Linked DNA regions of Homo sapiens. The protein of the gene in region 1 purifies or fractionates together with the protein of each later gene. This does not show direct contact. Each region holds a gene or a part of one and is shown on either strand. Other genes may lie near its edges.

The links.
Region 2: the proteins of LONRF2 (region 1) and ZNF384 fractionate together in Homo sapiens (co-fractionation; one large-scale study listed by BioGRID). This does not show direct contact.

What each region holds. Positions count from the first base shown.
Region 1 is NC_000002.12:100,287,753-100,291,572, reverse strand, and holds part of LONRF2 (LON peptidase N-terminal domain and RING finger protein 2), read left to right. Parts: intron 1-1,152; coding exon 1,153-1,315; intron 1,316-3,820.
Region 2 is NC_000012.12:6,672,158-6,675,977, reverse strand, and holds part of ZNF384 (zinc finger protein 384), read left to right. Parts: intron 1-2,537; coding exon 2,538-2,762; intron 2,763-3,445; coding exon 3,446-3,628; intron 3,629-3,820. UniProt on the Homo sapiens protein: Transcription factor that binds the consensus DNA sequence [GC]AAAAA. Seems to bind and regulate the promoters of MMP1, MMP3, MMP7 and COL1A1.

The DNA.
Region 1 (3,820 bases):
AATGGAACGGTAGGATATGGAGGAGTGAGGGGGAGGCAAGGAGATGAAGGCAGTGGCCGGGGACTGCTTTCCACGGCACTTTGGTTGGGGAGGGCAGAGCTGGCAGAATTGGAATGAGGTGAAGACCTTGTGGGCGAAGGCAGGAGGGAGGAGGAGCGGAGTGCCTTTGAAGGTGGAGGACTTGCTGCCCCAGCAACCAGCACCAGCAGAGGCCTCCAGATAAACGTCAGCTCCTCCAAGCCTGCCTCACTGCAGGGCATGACTCATCAAGGAGGCTCTTATCTGTGGACAGGATCCTGTGTGTGATGCAAACTCCCTTTGTGAGTGCAGCTCTCCAGACCTGCACTCTGGTGCCAGCCCACACAAGGTCATTGGCAATTTGTTTAAAAAAAAAATAGCTGAATGCTTCCTACACACTTTTGTGTCTCTTCCTGGGTTCTGCCTACTCTCTCCCTGTGGGATCTTTGTTTGGTTACCCTGAGCAATCTCCACCCTCTGGTGGGTTCAAGAGACATATGTTTTGTGGTTTATCTGGTTTTCCTTGTCGTTTTTCACATTCTTTTTAGTGTTCTATATTCTCAGTGCACATGGAACTCATAGCTTGTTTTTTCACTTTGTTGACTTTTGATGAATCAAATTTTAAGTGTGGGCTTGAATTCATATGTATTATAAACTGCTCCGTGTGTTGCTTGGCACGTGGTAGCATGAGAATATCACTAGGATAAGGGTGATAGTTACAATCGGAGTGTGGGTAAGAGCTGGGGAGAGCTTTGGAAAGCCGAGTGTGTGCGTGGCACCAGCTGGGCAGTCCTGATGGTGCCCCGCCAAGGTGGCTGAGGAGCCACATTTGAGATTTCATCTCTTCCCATCTCTCGGGTCCTTCCCAAAACACTAGCCCGTTGGAACCGCTAAGGCACAAGTCCTGTCTCACCTGGAGCCCTTCCCCTGCAGCCACCATCACCACTATATTTAACATCTAACAGAAGCGACCATGTGCACGTGTCTCTTAGCGACAATAACCTTGCTGGTCTGATGTGGAGACACTGTTTTGTGTGGCTTTGTATTCCTTTTAAAAGTAAACTCTCATCCAGGGAAAAAGAAGGCCCCCTGCATTTTAAAAATCACAGTCATTTCTCCTAACTGTCTTTTCAGGCTTTCAGAGTATGGATGCATGCTGGAGATTAAGGACGTGAGAACGTTTCCTGATGGAAGTTCTGTTGTAGACGCGATTGGCATCAGTCGGTTCCGAGTGCTAAGCCACCGCCACAGAGATGGCTATAACACAGCGGACATTGAATATCTTGAAGATGAAAAGGTAAGGCTTATCATACTGGTGTATTTTATAGCAGTCGGTCCTCTCGCTTCCCTTTGCATTGTGGAAAAGCTTTGTCAAACTTGTACTGACAATATTACTTAAGTCCTTAATTCATCACTTAAGTTATTTATTTATCTATTTGTTTATTTTTGAGTCAAGGTCTTGTTCTGTCGTGCAGGCTAGAGTGCAGCAGCATGATCTTGGCCCACTGCAGCCTTGACCTCCCAGGCTCAAACGATCCTCCTGCTTTAGCCTCCCGAGTAGCTGGGACTGTAGGTGCACACCACCACACATGGCTAATTTAAATTTTGTTTGTCGTTGAAACAGAGTCTCCCTGTGTTTCCCAGGCTGGTCTCAAACTCCTGGGCTCAAGCAGTCCTCCCACCTCAACCAAAGTGTAGTAGCCCCAAAGTGCTGTGACTACAGGCATGAGCCCCTGCCTTCAGCAGTTATTTATTTTCTCAGTGGATTTTTACCTGAGTTGGGAGCTGGTACAGAAATCTCCTTTTAAAAAAATGATCTGGCCAGGCATGGTGGCTCACGCCTGTAATCCCAGCACTTTGGGAGGCCAAGGTGGGCAGGTCACGAGGTCAGGAGATTGAGACCATCCTGGCTAATACGGTGAAACCCTGGCTCTATTAAAAATATAAAAAAATTAACCATGTGTGGTGGCGGGCACCTGTAGTCCCAGCTACTTGGGAGGCTGAGGCAGGAGAATTGCTTGAACCTGGGAGCTGAAGGTTGCAGTGAGCTGAGATCGTGCCACTGCACTCCAGCCTGGGCGACAGAGCAAGACTCCATCTCAAAAAAAAAAAAAAAAAAAAAAAGACCTTATTGTACTTATGCAACATGTAAACCTGCGCATTGCAAAATAGGCTTTTGATTTGTATTTGATGCTGTAGCCCTGGAGCTGGCAAACTTTTTCTGTAAAGGGCCGGCTAATAAGTACTTTAGACTCCAGAGGCCATGTGGTCTCTGTCGAAGCTACCCAGTTCTGCCCTTGTAGTGCAAAAGCAGCCATAGACAATGTGTAAAGGCATGAGCATGACTGGTTTCCGTTAAATGTGACTTCCGGAAACATGGTGGTGAGCACGGTTTGACTCATGAACAGCAGTCTGTCAGTCCCTGTTCTCTAGGTTGGTATTAATTCAGAATGTGACAAAATCTACAACTTAAAAAATACCTCCCAAAGCTAAATATAAAAGACTTGAATTTATTAACCCTTAAGAATTTTTTCATGTGTCTAATAGAAATATCAGGACATATAATTTGACAAATTAGCAAAATGTTTTGAGAGATTCTCCAACAGACTTACACAAGGATGTCCATAACAGTCTTACTCCATTATAGCCCCAAACCAGGAACAGCCCAGGTGCTGATCACACTTGAGTCAGTAAACACATTGTGGTCCATTCATGCAATGGAATACTACCTGTCAATAAAAAGAAATGAACCACTCGTGCATGAAACAATATGGATGACTCTCACAGACATTATGCTAAGTGAGAGAAGCCAGACACAGGACGAACACATACCGCGTGGCTTCATCTGTATACTTCCAGGAACAGGCAAAACTAGAGTCTGGGGACAGAAGTCAGAAAAGGCTTGTGGGGTTGGCTTTGTAATTGACTGGAGGGAGTGGTGAAGAATCTTTCTAAGTAGTGGAAATGTCTATCTGGTTTTGGGTGATGGTCAGACTGGTGTATACAGTTGAGAAAACTCTTTGAGCTCAACAAGATCTATGCACTTTTTGGTCTGTAAATTATACTGCAGCAAGAAATTTTAAAATACTTAAAAGGAGGAAATCCTTGGAATTATTGTATCCCTCTTTTAAATTCTTTGGTTGACATTTGGAATTGTGGAAGTGAGGGTACGTAGCCACCCCACATCACACTGGAAGTCATTTTGGGGGCAGTGGTGTACACTTAGGATTTGTGAATGGAGTCACACCCAGGACACTGTCTCTGTGCCTCCTCCAGCTGCTGTTTCTGGTCATCCCAGTGCATGGGAGCAGAGCAGGGAGCCCAGCTCCCAGGCTGGACCAGAAAGCTGGGTTTCAAAGCTACAGCTGAAAGTGATAATTCTCAGGGTCTCTCTGTGGGATGGATAGACCTGACGGCAGGGTTTATTGACCGTTGTTGTAGATGACAGCTTTTAATAGTGTATGCGCTTATTTTAAATGGGGGCTTAAATAGCTACAACATGAAATAATTTTAGCTTATTTTTATAAGAAAATCCTCTATCACATATGAATATTTGATTTGTATAAATCAAATTGAGGGTGGTATATGCATTATATTATAATTTCTCAGCACACCGTAGTTTTTGTAGGTACTGGAATTTTGTAACAGGAAAGGACCTTCATGGTTTATTCCTATTATGCAGATGAGAAAACTCTGCCCTAACGAGGCTGTGAGACTGGCTAGATTCACACATGAGAGTTGGTGATGAAGCCAGACCAAACCCTGGCCCCGTGATTCCCAGTCCCATGCTCTTCCTCCTCTA
Region 2 (3,820 bases), on another chromosome or scaffold:
ATGTGTGGGTCAGCCATACCCTCTTCAGTGGTCAGTAGCATTTGACTGGCTATTGGGGCAGTTGGGTTCTGTTACTCTGGTCAAGTCAACGTATCTCCCACTCTTTGTTCCCATATATAAAATGGGAAGATCAGCCATGCCTTCATCTGTCTTGTAGAAATGTTTTGAGGCAAAGTCAGAATATTTGAAATTGTTTTGAGCATTTTAGGAAAAATGGATAATAATTCAAAGTGGCCATACTTGTAATTATTATAATCAAGGCCATTGCATTGCATGCTTCCAAGGGGTCCCGTTCTCATTGTGTTGGATGTGAATGGTGCCCCTGGAGGAAGGCACCCCATGATATGGATGCTGGCTTTTCTATCCCCTGCTGACTGCCACGACTCTCCAAAACTAAATTTCTTTCCAACCACCCAGCACCTTGCATTAGAGGACTCTCTTACTTGACTTCATAGGATTTTCAAGTTGGAAATATTTTAATGATCTCCTTGGTCAGTCCCTTCCTGGCAGATGATTCCAACCTCTGCTTGAATACCTCTGGTGTTAAGAATCTTAAAGTAGGCTGGCATCATGGCTTTGTAGTGAATAACTGCCCTTTGGCAAATTACTTACTTTCTGAGTCTTTGTGTTCCTTTCTGTAAAAACATGGATAAGACTTGCCAGGTTGTGAGGAGTAGAAACAATGTGTCTGAAGTGCCTAACCTAGTGCCTGGCACTGTCAGGCATAACAACAAATGGCAACTATTATCATTGTGGTCATCATCATTATTATACCTAGTGTCTTCTGAGATTGCTCATTCCCTTGCCAGCACATTATAAATGAATTTAAGTTTTGCAAGTTCTCTTATTGGAAACTTTGACTAAGTGGGTTATTATTATTTTTTAAAATTAACCTTAATGTTAAGGGCAGAATTGTGTATTGAACACCCTCACACACAAATTGACGAGATTTTATTTGGGTTAAAATAAATATGTTCTACCTGTCTGAGAAATTGTAGCATCAAGGGAAATTAGTTTGCAACTTTAGTACAGTTGCCCTTCAAGGGACAATGTGTCCAGCTTCTAACTTCAGTCTTAGTGAAATATTTACTAGCATGAGCTTGTCCATCAGCACTAAGGCTTAAGATGAATGCAGTTTTATTACTGGAGAATACTTGGCTTACCTTTGACTGTCCTAGGCATTTGCTCGCCCTTCTGGGGGCAAAAATTTATCTTTCCATTTTACAGACCAGAAAATTGAGGTCTGTTAATGAGCAAGTTTGTAACTGAAGCCTGAGTAGAACCCAGGCATCCTGATTCCCACTGGTTGTGTCCTTTGGATTATGCTCACTATAAACAGAGCCTCCCCCTCTCTCCTGCAATGATTGGGCATCTCAGACAACTGCCAGGGATCAATAAGCTGGTAACTAAAAAATTCTCCTGAGATGAAAAAAGTGCAGAAATCATGATCCCACACCATCTGAAGCCTCTCTTAAGAAGATAAGTTAGGGAGAACCCAAAGAAGAGGGACTTGTGCTAATTGCCTGGCTTCCAGGCCATTGCCTTTTCTACCAGCTCCCATTTTACACTGGTGAATTGTTTACGAAAATGAAAGATAGCTTTTACTCAGTAAAGTCTGAATAGTTGTGGCTTAACTTGCTCAGAGGCCTCCTTATTGATATTTGGTGGACAATACCAGAGTGGAAAGGATTACCAGCTTGGGATGAGTGAAAGTACGATCAGGTGCTACTGATGTCAACCCAGAGTGCTGACACTGGCTCCATGTGCTAGGGAAGAGGAAAGGTTTAGCGTGGAAGATAGGTGTTTTGTAATCATTTTTCTCCCAAATGCTTGAGGGATGGCACCTTCCCCTAGCAGCTACGTTGGTCATTGCAAAAGTGGTTTTCACTTGATTGTCAAGGGGCTGTGGGCAAGGGGTGGGTAGATGATGGATGCAACATCAGATAAGAGGGTGGAGAGCAGACATACCTGGTTTGAAAAAGCCCCTCCAAATAATTCTGATACTTCCTCACCCCCATCCCTCTAGGAATCGCTGCCAAAAAGGAAGTAGGGGAAAATCTGAGGGAAGAAAATTATCTATGGAGACAGGAGAGGATCCAGTTAGTTGTTCCTCATTATCATCTCGGGGTCTTGAGGAATACAGAGGCATGTGCTTCATACATAGGAACATCAGAGCAAGGAATTCCTTAAATGTTTGAAATCAAGCTGTAAGCAGAAGGCAAACAAGTTAACTGATATTCCTGGCCCATTGAAATTCGCATCTGCCCAGAGTTCATACTGTTTCTGTTTTATCTGGTTGAAATACATTTTTGCACATGGAGGCAGTCCAGTCATTCAGCAAACATTTATTGAATATTTATAATGTGCTGGGCACCATGTTAGAAGCTTAGGCCATAAAGATGAATATATAGAGCTCTACTCTCAAGTTGGAGTAGGAGAGACCTCAGATAGGTGGGCTTCTCTTGGAAGTAGAGGGGAGGGTTCAGCCACACCTTCTTGATGGGAAGGGTTCTAACCATTGCCCTCACTTGGCTCAGGTGCCGGATGTGCTCACTGACATTCTACTCCAAGTCGGAGATGCAGATCCACTCCAAGTCACACACCGAGACCAAGCCCCACAAGTGCCCACATTGCTCCAAGACCTTCGCCAACAGCTCCTACCTGGCCCAGCACATCCGTATACACTCAGGGGCTAAGCCCTACAGTTGTAACTTCTGTGAGAAATCCTTCCGCCAGCTCTCCCACCTTCAGCAGCACACCCGGTAAGGCTGCTCTTGGTTTACCCCACCACCTGGCCGTGAACCCTAAGACCATGTTGCCTGCACCTACTCCTCTCTCCACATGTATTATTCTTTCCCTTTCACCTTTGCCCATTGGTAGCCTCAACCTCCTATTACTGTCTGTGGAAATTATATATCCTAGCTATTTGGGGGGCCTTGAAAATTGTGGTCTCCAATTCCAAAGTCTGGAACAATTTTTGTGGTTTCTCTCTGTGTCTGTGTTTGGAAATCTTCTGCAGAGCAGGCCTGCTTTTACTATATGCTTCAGTTCAGAGCCAAGGTGTGCATTCAACTTCAGGTCCATGGGGAACAGGCGGTATTGGTCTTTGTTCAGATTACTATTTGGAAGCAGGGTGTCTGTGGTGAGTGTGTTAACCTTAGGAGAAAGCGGAGGGTTGATGAGATTGACTACTTTAAGGTTACCAGGAGCCATGGGTTGCAGCTCTTCATCATCTCACTGCCATTCTAGCCACCGACTTACGATCAGCAACAACCTAGATCTGGGTGTCCTCTTCATTTGCCTATCCAGGCTGGAGTGTTTTTGGGAGGAGGGAGGAAGGGGGTGCTCTCATCCGTCAAGCAACGTCATTTCACCCAGCAGAGAGCTGAGCCCCTGGTGTCGAACTGCTTCCTCCTCCCCCCTTCCCTCCTCTCCTCTCCGGCAGGATCCACTCCAAGATGCACACGGAGACCATCAAGCCCCACAAGTGCCCGCACTGCTCCAAGACCTTCGCCAACACCTCCTACCTGGCCCAGCACCTCCGTATCCACTCGGGGGCCAAGCCCTACAACTGTTCCTACTGCCAGAAGGCCTTCCGCCAGCTCTCCCACCTCCAGCAGCACACACGGTAAGGGAGAGTGGCGGGCTACTGACCCCGCCCCGCTGGCATGCCCTCCCCACCCCCGCCCCGGACACACACAACAACCCGCATGCGGGGGGCGGGGGAGAGACCTGGCTGGAGGAGAGACCTGGCTGGCATCTGGGAGAAGGAAGACCAAACAACACTGGAGATTCAAGTGGACACAGAGCTTCTCTGGGG